Linked DNA regions of Homo sapiens. The protein of the gene in region 2 interacts with the protein of the main gene of each other region in a pairwise test. Each region holds a gene or a part of one and is shown on either strand. Other genes may lie near its edges. The genes, in order: RAB38, DNM2 and FYN.

Region 1 (3,749 bases), on a different chromosome or scaffold from region 2:
TTCACCATGTTGGCCAGGCTGGTCTTGAACTCCTGACCTCAAGTGATTCACCCACCTCAGCCTCCCAAAGTGCTTGGATTACAATCATGAGCAACCATGCCCTGCCATAGGTATTATCATTCTCCTTTCGTTGATGTGGAAACCAAGGCTCAGAGGTTATGTGACTTGTCCCGGGTACACATCTTCAGCATCCCTCTGCTTGTTTGGGGCATGTGGAGGCTAAAGTTTAGGGAGTGTCAGGCCAGAAGAGGAAGGCAGAAAGACAATGGCCTTGCCAAACCTCCTTTCTCCCTTTCACACAGGCCTGTGTTTAAGTCCTAGTTCTAACACATACTAGTTATGTGTGCCCTTGAGAAAGCTGCTGTTAATCTTGGTTTCCTTATTTATAAATTGAAGAAAATAACCCACTTCATAAAGCAATTGAGAAGATGAAATGATAGAATGTGAGCAGAGCTCCTTCACAGCACATTCAGGTACAAAATAGCTCATTTTGGTATAAACTGCTCACCCCCTAGCCCTGAATGCCCAATTTCTCATTTTCTTTATGTCTTTACTAAATTGTCTCCATCTTACTGAAACCTTCCCTGGCCACCCTATCTAAAAGGCAAACCCCATATAATCTCTTCACATCCCCTTTCTGCCTTATTTTATTACCAATTAATATATGACAAATTGTATTTATTTTGTCTTGTCCTGTCTCCACCCACAAGAAGGTAAATTTTTCTTAGGCCAGTAGGCATTGTCTGCGTTAGGAGGATGATACAGAAATCCTAACGCAGACAATGCCTACTGGCCTCAAAAAAATTTACCTTCTTGTAGGTGGAGACAGACAAGACAAAATAAGTACAATTTGTCATATATTAATTGGTAATAAAATGTATATTGGTCAAATGAATGAAAACAAACAACAAAAACAACAAAAAGAAGTTGGGAACCTAAAGACCTATGTTTGAATTTGGTTTTTTTCCTTACTATTTGACTCTGGGTCCATTACTTAAAATGTCTGGTCCTTAGCTTCCTCATTTGTAAAATAGGAAGAAAAATGGTATCTATTATTAAGACAGCTGGGATGACTAAATGACATAATTTATAAACCCTCTGGCATATAGCGAGTGCTCAATAAATGTTTGCCATTATTATTATTTGTAATAATCTGACCGATTGTTAAAACTGTCTTTCTGTGCAGCTCTGAGTTTTTAGGATATGGGAAGAGGCTAAAAGTCACCAGTGCCCTTGGCATTTTCGGCCCAGTTGTCCTCCTTGTTAACTGATTACCAGTTGAATGGGTGTGAAAGTGCTCAGTGTTCCCACCTCCAAGCTGCTCAGAGGTCAGCATTGCCATTCATTGAGAAATAACAGGCTGTGAGAGCTCAAATGACTTACTTATGGTCCCTCAACTTAAAAACCAGGGCACGCAGGAACCAAGCCCAGCCAGTCTTGGGCTTCCTAATACTGTAATTTCTCTCTACAGTGTGGGGTAGTTAAGAGCCTGTGACTTCAGACCTGTGGTCAACGGGGCCTTTCACCGGCCATCTCCCGCAGAGTACTTTTTCACAATCAGTTTTCTCGCAAGCAAAACGTGGAAAATAAGATCCACACCTCACAAGTTTGTGGCCAGGGTCACAGGTGAAAACAGCTCTTCGGAAACTCTAAAGCGCCGGATAAATAAGCGCTGCAACAGGCAACCACACGCGAACCCCTTTCAGCTGCCAGTCCCGGGACTCGCTCCTGTCTCCTCCCCTCTCCAAGACCGCGGAGTAGGAAGGAGGATTAACCCCTAGGGGAGGAGTTCCGCCCCCCAGCCCCCGCCCCGCCGCCCACGCCTCTCTCTGCACCTACACTTGCGCTCCCCAAGTCTCTCTCGTGCGCAGAGCCCAGGCTGCGCTTCCCTGGTCAGGCACGGCACGTCTGGCCGGCCGCCAGGATGCAGGCCCCGCACAAGGAGCACCTGTACAAGTTGCTGGTGATTGGCGACCTGGGCGTGGGGAAGACCAGTATCATCAAGCGCTACGTGCACCAGAACTTCTCTTCGCACTACCGGGCCACAATCGGCGTGGACTTCGCGCTCAAGGTGCTCCACTGGGACCCGGAGACTGTGGTGCGCCTGCAGCTCTGGGATATCGCAGGTGAGCGCGGGGGGAGGGGGTCAGGGGGATAGAGCGCCTCGCGGCCGGTTTCCAGTCTCGAGGCAGCGGCTTGCGGCCAAGCGTGAGATTAAAATCACTAGGTCGCGAGGCAGTTTTTCCTGGTGGGCTGGAAACTTAGTTTCAAAGAAAAGAAAAACGTCTGAAACTTCAAGTGCATTCCCTGGCGCTTTTGGGCTATTGCTTTAGCTCCTTCCCGCACAGTCCCCTGGGATCTCTCTGCCCAGAGCAGGCCTCCCCAGGGAACCAGAGGAAGATTGTCTGCAATTGCATTCTGTTCTCCACTCCAGCTCGTTTTCTGGGCGCGGGCAGTTCTGCCAATGACGCAGCCCAGTGTCACGCACGTCCTTCCGTGCAGGGGCGGACCGAGGGGAAGCCCCTAGGCTGGTTCACAGAGGAAACCGGGATAGTTCCAGGCTAGCTGGAGTTTGCCCATTCCTGTCTTCAGTGGCTCACTTTATTTCAAATTTTGTCACCTTTCTCTCTGCCCTTAAGACAAAGGAGTTTGAGGGTTTTTGTTTTGTTTTTTTTTTTTTTTTTTTTTGCTTTTTGCTTACAGTAAGCCAAGTACTTTTGTGTGTATATGTCAGGGGCAAAGTATTCTTTCTCCCTCTCTTTCTGTATTTCTATCTCTCTGGCTCTCTGTCTTCTATGAAAAGGAGGTTGTGTGTATATTTTAAGGCCATTTTTATGTAAGGGCCTATGATAGCCTTATGATTTCTTGATTTGGCCCTAAAGTTTTCATTGAGAGATCTGAAAAATGAGAGGTTGTTTGTTTTTGTTTTTTACAATATTTAAAATCAGATTTTGACTCCACAGGTTTGTACCAGAAGTTAGGCCTAGTCAAAAGTGAGGGTGCAATGTATCTACTCCAAGTGTGAATCCTTGGACAAGGCTGTTTGCAACCTGCGCATGACCAACCCCTCATTACAGATTTTAGCCCTGCCACTAACTAACCTGCTCAGTGGCTTTGGACAAGTCTCTTCAGCTCAGTTGCATCGCTGTTAAGTGGAAAGGAGTTGGGCAAGGGTCAAGGATCTTCCTGCTCAGAAGTTTTAAAGTCCTCTGGGATTCTCCATGGGAACAACTTCAAACAGTCTTATTTCATGGTCTGTGACACCAGGAACCTTTCGTTATAAGTGCTGGACCCAAACTAGCCACTTCTGTTTCAGAAAATGGATTCATTTTAGCTGATGCATTTGATTGGAAACTCTTTATCATGGCTTGAAACTAGAACAAATGTGGAAAATTTTTGAAAGGGCATTTGTGATCTGGGGACTTTCGTGCCTCTTTAATCATGAACTGCCAGGCCTTTTTCTTTTAGCATGTGAACAGATGAACAGATTCATGCATTTGGAGTCATCTTCAGCTGCTCTAGTAGCAAGGGGGTTATCAGAGAACAGAAAATGTTATCAGCCACTGTTGGATGGGGCTTTTCATCTAAAAAAATTCTCTCTGTGTACTTTCTTGCTGCATGTCATAATGTCTGAAAACCCTTCTGGCTGCTCGAAAGTCCTCAGGATTCAGATTTAGAAACGGCTTACTGTTTAAACGGGGATGTAGCTGTAATTTGGACTTCTGTGTACAATCCAGGTAACAGCATGA
Region 2 (3,749 bases):
CCACGCCTGGCTAATTTTTTGTATTTTTAGTAGAAACGTGGTTTCACTATGTTAGCCAAGCTGGTTTCGAACCTCTAACCTCAGGTGATCTGCCCTCCTTGGCCTCCCAAAGTGCTGGGATTACAGGCATGAGCCACCGCACCTGGCGCTTTTTGCCTATTTCTTTGAGACCTGGGGTTTTGGGTCACAAAACAGGCAAATGCCATGAGCCACCCTCCTCCTCTTTCTCCATCTTCTTGTGCTGCCTCAGGTCAGAGCACTTACCTGCTCCTGCCTTCTCACTGGGTTTCCTTGTCTCTGGCCTATTTGTCTCCAGAGGGGTCAAAACACTTCAAATCCTCCTATTTGTCTCTGTCCACTGTCAGGAGTTCCAGTTCCCAGAACCCCAATTTTGCCTACAAAATAGCGTGTCTTTTCACGGGGAGAGGATTTGTTGAGTTTTAGTGGGTACTCAAAAAGATCTAAAGCCAGTTGGGGGGGTTCACACATGTAATCCCAGCACTTTTGGGAGGCCGGCCTGTGAGGGTCGTTTGGGCGCAGGAGTTTGAGACCAGCCTGGACAACACAGCAAGACCCTGTCTCTATAAAAAATAAAATAAAAATAATTAGCTGGGCATAGTTGCGCACGTCTGTGGTTCCAGCTACTCGGGACGCTGAGGCGGGAGGATCGTTTGAGCCCAGGTGCTTGTTGAATTGAGCTATGAGTGCACTACTGCACCCCAGCCTGGGCAACAGAGTAAGGACCCAGTTTCTAAGAAAAGAAGATTCATTAGCTAGACGCGGTGGCTCACACCTGTAATTCCAACACTTTGGGAGGCCAAGACGGGCGGATCACTTGAGGCCAGGCGTTCGAGACCAGCCTGGCCAATATGGTGAAACCCCGTCTACTAAAAATACAAAATTAGCTGGGCGTGGTGGCTCACACTTGTAATCCCAGCTATTCGGGAGGCTGAGGCAGGAGAATTGGTTGAACCGGGGAGGCGGAGGTTGCAGTGAGCCAAGATCGCGCTACTGCACTCCAGCCTGGGTGACAGAGTGAGTACCCCGCCTCAAAAAAAAGAAAAGAAAAAAGATTCATGATCTGCTAAAGTTGAAGAAGTGGGGGAAAACATTGGAGTGTTAGCGGCGTCAAGATCGGGCGTGAGCAGAAAGGGCACAGCATTTGCAAAGGCGTGGAGGAGTGATTTTATTGCGTTCTATCCCTAGGAAGCAATGACTTGGCCTCTACCATTTGCAGAGCGCATTGGGACCCTGCTCCCAGAGCTGGTTTGCAGTCTGGGAACTGAGATGCGCTCTGGGACTTGTAGTTTTCCCCAGTGCCAGGAAACTCAAAAATCGAGACATCGGATCCCACCACGAGGTGTCGCCCTTGAGCGAGTACGGTGGGATCTATCCTATACTTCAGAAGGCTGTTGCAGACATCCAACAATCACAAGGAAGAACGGGAGTTTTTCTGATTGACAGATATGGTTCTCAATGATAGTCAAGATTCGGATGTTAAAGCCCGCCCTCTTTTGCCTGGTTGGCTGGAGCAACGAAGTGATATTTATATGAACCAATGGGAAATTCTTAGGGAACGAGGTAGTAGCTCAATCCCCAACACCATTGGTCCACATTGTCTACTGGCACGTCTGCCTGCCAATAAGATGGTGGAACTTCGCCAATGGGCAGAGCCAACGTGCCTTTTTCGGAAACACCCCCTTCCTCTCTTGACAACTTGCTTTCTGCCGCTATTGGCTGTTGCACAACAGTGACGGTTCTTTTGTCCAATAAGTCAGCAAGACGGTCCCCAGGGGGAAGGTTTACTCAACCATAGGCCCGTGCCTAGTTTTTATTGGCTAGTGTATCCGAGTGGCGGTGCAGCAGGCCAGTCGCGTGCGGCGCGAGTGCTTTGGGCGCAGCCCCCGGGGCCGGGGCGGGAGGTCGCTCGGGTCGGGTGTCGCCTGAGAACCGGATGAGGCGGCGACCGTGAGGCCGAGCCGGGAGCGGGCGTCTTGCCGAGGCCCGGGCGGGCGGGGAGCAACGGCTACAGACGCCGCGGGGCCAGGTCGTTGAGGGTCGGCGGCGGGCGAGGAGCGCAGGGCGCTCGGGCCGGGGGCCGCCGGCGCCATGGGCAACCGCGGGATGGAAGAGCTGATCCCGCTGGTCAACAAACTGCAGGACGCCTTCAGCTCCATCGGCCAGAGCTGCCACCTGGACCTGCCGCAGATCGCTGTAGTGGGCGGCCAGAGCGCCGGCAAGAGCTCGGTGCTGGAGAACTTCGTGGGCCGGTGAGCGGGCGCGGCAGGGATCGCGGGCGGGTGGCGGCCTAGGGCGCGGAGGGCGGACCGGGAATGGCGCGCCGTGCGCCGCCGGCGTAACTGCGGCGCTTGCGTGCCCGCGGCGGGGAACCGGACGGGGTCGGGGAGGCGGGCCCTGTGGGACGCCCTGGGCAGAGGACTCCCTGCAGGGGCTCCGGAGCAGGCCCGGGCCCCAGGGGCGGTGTCACGGGCCAGGGCGCCGTAGGACAGGAGGTGCGCTGGAACCCTGCGGTCCATCTGGTCCCAGCTTTCGTGGGTGAAGTCTGCCATCTGGTTGGCCGTGGGTCTGGGGTAGATCCCTCTTCTGCTCTTTCGGGCTGTCCATCAGAGGTGAAACCGGCCATCTAGATATCTATTGGGGCGACCGCTGCGGTCTGGCTGGCTTGTTCTTGTATCTGGAGCTGCCCCCGCCGTCTGGTTGGCTGTCTCTCTGTCCTGGGCAAGCCTCCCTGCCACCACCATTTGGTTGTCCATCTGTCCAGTCCCACCTGGCAGCCCCCTGCTGTCTGGCTAGCTGTCCAGGGTGACCTCTGCTGTCTGGCCGCCCATCCGTGCCCCTCACAGACTTTAACACTGAGCAGTCCCTCTGTTGGGTGACACCAGCTGGCCTCTACTGTCTGACTGGCTAGCTGACTCCTAGGGGACCCTGTTTGATTCTCTCTGGCTGACTCTTACAGCTTGATTCCTGGCTAGCGCTGGCTCCTCTCTTCCGTGTGAATTCTTCTGTCTGTCTGGCCATCTCCTAGTCTGCCCATGACTACCCCTGAGTGTCTGGCACAACGGCTCTGGAAAGGGGTGGTAGGAGGGTAGAGGGGAGAACAGAGCTGAAGGAGGAGGTTTGGACCCTACTTCCCCTCTCAGCTGGAAGGAGGACTCTGGGGGTACCTTACTTCAGGATTCCTTTCCGAGTGCTAGAACACAGGGGCCCGCCTCCCAGCTACAGCCTACAAATTGGGGGCCCTCCTTTGGAGCCTGGGAAGGGGCTTCTTGCGTGATCAGGCCTCAGTGGCTAGCGCTGGGATGTAGCCTTCTCTGGACAGCCTTGAGAAGCCGCGGTGTGCCCATCTGTCCAGTGGGCAAACTCCACTCTCTGGGGCTGTTTCCAGGATTCAGGAAGCAAATGAATGAGAACAGCCCGTGCAGCCACCTCTCCCTCCCACCAACCCCTCTTGCCTTTCTTGTCTCCCAGATGGGCGGCCACTTCTCCATTCCAGGAACTACTCATTTGTGGTGGTGTGGCTGCCAAATGATAACATCCTCCTCCTGTCATTATTGTCATTGTTATTGTTGTTATCATTGTCAAGGGATAATGTCCCTTCTTGATTCAACATCTTGAATCCCAAGTAAGGAGTGGGGTGGAGGCTGTGTTATCATCCCCACCTTAGCTGAGCTGGGAGGCTCAGAAGGGACTGTGATCACCCAAGGCCACTAGGCTGGCGTAAGGCCTTG
Region 3 (3,749 bases), on a different chromosome or scaffold from region 2:
TGCACGTACATTTCATTCTCATGCAAGCCATTTATCATGTTCCCCACCAATACTGCTGTTTCCTAACTAGGCTTAGACTTACACAACCCACAGCTCTTAGATCTATTATGTCTATTGTGTTAAATTAAACTTTTATAATGTACATCAGTTTCTGTCCTAACACCCAGATATCACCATTATTTTGTTCTTTCTGAAAACATATAATTATTAGATATGCAGTTTATACATTTTATCAAAGACTGGTTTTATGTGCAATTGTTAAAATGATTGCTTTCTTTCCTAGATTAGCAAGTATTATATGCCACTATATAATACATGTTCACATGTGCCTATAGATATAGGTGCACATGTATAGACACATGTCTATATCCTATTAAGCCTAGAGATATTTTTTTGTGTGACCCATTTCTCCATTTTCTATTGTTCTCCAGGACAAAGGCAAGACTCAAAAATAGTATATGATTTACCTCTACTATTGCTCTGTGCACAATCATTGAAATATGTATGTATAATTTTTGGCATGAAAAAGCAATCTTTCGAAAATGACAATAAGAAATGTCTGTTGATCCCTTGCACTAATGAACAATAGAAAATATTAACAGCACTTGCAGTACTAGTTGATTATGGCATTGGCTAACTCGGTTTATGTGGATTCTAATGAAACATTTGGGAGAAATGGAACAAAATATCTCCCTGAGCTTAAGTGATATACTCAAAATGCCTGCATGTTGTAAGGATTTTTCAAATGCTGAAATATATTTCATTACAGCCAAACATCAGCAGGATCCCCAGGGTTTGGATCATTTGAAAATACTGTGTTCGAAAGGGCACCTTAATAACATTGTAAAGCTGGAAGGAAAGAGGGGATATGAACAATAGACACTTTTTTTAATCTCGGGGAAAAAAAATCCATCTCACGTTAGACTTGTTTTTATATTGGCTTTCCCTCTTCCCTCTTTCTCTCTCACACAATAAAATGCCTTTGAAATGCTGACACATAAATAATTTCCTACCTAAACATCTCAGAGCCTGATTCCATCAAAAAGAAAGGAGTAAAAAGCAAGTTACAGCCCAGCAGCACATCTGCTTTCCCTGGGTCCGGGGGCTGCCAGGAGGGAGCGGGAGGTCTGTCCACCTCACAAGGCAGGCTCTGTCAGCTTTTGTCACTCCCTGATTTCTTATTCTTTGTTACCTTTTTTCGCCTGACTGATTTTTACTTGGCATTTAAGTTCCCCTTAGCACTGCCAGATTCTAAAAGGTTATATTCTTTTTAAAAAAGAAGAGAAAGAAAGAAGGAAAGAAGACAAAGAAAGAATAAAAACCTCCGAGTGTTAACTACTTTTTCCTTTCTTCTTTTTTTTATAAAGAATACATTCTTTCACATCTTGAATTTCTGTGAATTTTAGTTTCCATTCTTTCTCCTTTCAAACCAGACACCTAAATTATACGTCGAAGACTGTTAAAAAGTTGTTTTTTTTTTTTTAATGGAAAATATCCAAGAAGCAGCCCAGGAGTATCTGACATGGTGGAATGGAATCAGTTAGAAAGCGAAGAAATCACTAAAAAAAGTTACTTCTTTTTTTCCCCACCAGTTATAATCTTCAACCTTACTAGTTTATAACAGTTTAATGTCCTATAGAAGGATCCTCCACTAAAGTTATAATTTTAAGTATAGTCATATAGAGAGATCCCTAATCCCCTGGGTAATCTAGATACTAAAGGTGGGGAAGAACAGTCATATTGACATTCTTTAATCCAAAACCACTGTTTGAAATTAGTAAGGATATTTTCAGCATTCCCAAAAACATGTTATTAGCACGTTGAGCTGAAAACGTTTTTCTTCCTCAGTGAGTACAGAAACCAAAGCAGTCTGCGTGTATGTCTATGTATAGACTGTATCGTACCTGGGCTCATGGAGTAGTCTAAATTTAAAACGTCCTCTCTTCTACCTCCAATGAAAATGTTTCCGTGTGTGGCGTCTGATCTTCCACCGTGTGTGTGGTCGTCTGCTGGTGTAGCGCTGTTTAAGGAGCGCTGTGTGCTGCTAGTGTTCCACGATGTGTGTGGTCGTCTGCTGGTGTAGTAGCACTGTTTGAGGAGCACTGTGCGCCGCTAGTGTGGGTTTACACTTATGAGTGTTGTCATTACATGTGTTCTGCTCTTCTCTCCCTCTCCTGCCCCTGCCCTGCTCCATCAGAGAGAGCTGCAGGTCTCTGCTGCCGCCTAGTAGTTCCCTGTCACAAAGGGATGCCAAGGCTTACCGATCTGTCTGTCAAAACCAAAGATGTCTGGGAAATCCCTCGAGAATCCCTGCAGTTGATCAAGAGACTGGGAAATGGGCAGTTTGGGGAAGTATGGATGGGTATGCTGAGACTCAATTACTCTCTTATTAGCTTCCCCGTTTGGAAGATCCCAAACACCAAAGATGGAAGGTGAAAATAAAGACTGCGTGACCGGGAAGAAAGTTTGAATTACTAATAGTGGGGAATAATAATTTCAGTTTTGGTTTTAACATTCTGGAATTCCTAAAAAAAAAAAAAAAAAAAAAAAAAGATAGTAAGTGGGCAAAATTGGCAAATGGCTCAAGTTGTACTATTACATGACTCTCAATTCATAAACCAGCAAATGGTCCAAGGAATGTTCCAGCTGCCATAAAATATCTTGCTCTTCATTTCCAAAAGCAAATATTTGTTGAGTGTCATCCTAACGGGCAAGTCACCTTCCATCTTTCCTAGTGCATGCATAATTATGGATTATAAGGACTGTGTTTTCTTTATTAATTCCCTTTCCTGTAGAGAAAGCTGATGGTTTGTGTTTTAACTTAACTGTGATTGCATCGAGTTGTACCCCACAAACTTCTGGATTGGCTAAAGATGCTTGGGAAGTTGCACGTCGTTCGTTGTGTCTGGAGAAGAAGCTGGGTCAGGGGTGTTTCGCTGAAGTGTGGCTTGGTAAGGCAGAGGGCACATTTTGTTTTGGCTGCATCTCAAAGCCGATTAAAAGGATGGTTTTGAACAAAAATGCACACACAGCCGTTGGGACAAAGACACTTAACCTGGATAACTAGACGGGCACAGGCCATCCAGATTTTCAGAATATGCTGATACCTTGCTGTGCTCATCTGTCCTACTTCATGTGGTTAATTAAGGCACCCGCAGAACAGGAAACCAGTACACTATGAATCTGGTGTTTCCTCTTCCTAAGAAATGGGAAGGTAAGATACTGTATATGGGCAGCCATAAGAAAGACCATGGACGTTTTGCTCAATGGGCCTGGGTTTGAATCCTTACTAGCTAATTAACCACGAACAAGGGGCATATTTAACTCCTTTAAGCCTCAGTTTTTTCATCTGTAAAATTGGAATGATACCTTTTTGTTGTTGTTGAGACGGAGTCTTGCTCTATCACTAGGCTGGAGTGCAATGGCGCGATATTGGCTCACTGCAACCTCCACCTCCCAGGTTCGAGTGATTCTCCTGCCTCAGCCTCCCGAGTAGCTGGGATTACAGGTGCCTGCCACCACGCCCAGCTAATTTTTGTATTTTTAGTAGAGACGGAGTTTCACCATGTTGGCCAGAATGGTCTCGATCTCCTGACCTGGTGGTCTGCCAGCTTCATCCTCCCAAAGTGCTGGGATTACAGGCGTGAGCCACCACGCCCGGCTGGAATGATACTTATTTAAAGGATTATTTTTAGGATTACATGGGTTAATATGTTTAAAGTCCCTTGCAGATAGTAGATATTCAGTAG

The links.
Region 1: the proteins of DNM2 (region 2) and RAB38 interact in binary tests that used the Homo sapiens proteins (3 or more experiments, as listed by UniProt).
Region 3: the proteins of DNM2 (region 2) and FYN interact in binary tests that used the Homo sapiens proteins (3 or more experiments, as listed by UniProt).

What each region holds. Positions count from the first base shown.
Region 1 is NC_000011.10:88,173,560-88,177,308, reverse strand, and holds the start of RAB38 (ras-related protein Rab-38), read left to right. Parts: upstream 1-1,865; 5' UTR 1,866-1,924; coding exon 1,925-2,126; intron 2,127-3,749. UniProt on the Homo sapiens protein: The small GTPases Rab are key regulators of intracellular membrane trafficking, from the formation of transport vesicles to their fusion with membranes.
Region 2 is NC_000019.10:10,716,134-10,719,882, forward strand, and holds the start of DNM2 (dynamin-2), read left to right. Parts: upstream 1-1,945; 5' UTR 1,946-2,109; coding exon 2,110-2,270; exon of another isoform or gene 2,271-2,370; intron 2,371-3,749. UniProt on the Homo sapiens protein: Catalyzes the hydrolysis of GTP and utilizes this energy to mediate vesicle scission at plasma membrane during endocytosis and filament remodeling at many actin structures during organization of the actin cytoskeleton.
Region 3 is NC_000006.12:111,698,717-111,702,465, reverse strand, and holds part of FYN (tyrosine-protein kinase Fyn), read left to right. Parts: intron 1-2,197; coding exon 2,198-2,362; intron 2,363-2,795; coding exon of another isoform or gene 2,796-2,951; intron 2,952-3,749. UniProt on the Homo sapiens protein: Non-receptor tyrosine-protein kinase that plays a role in many biological processes including regulation of cell growth and survival, cell adhesion, integrin-mediated signaling, cytoskeletal remodeling, cell motility, immune response and axon guidance.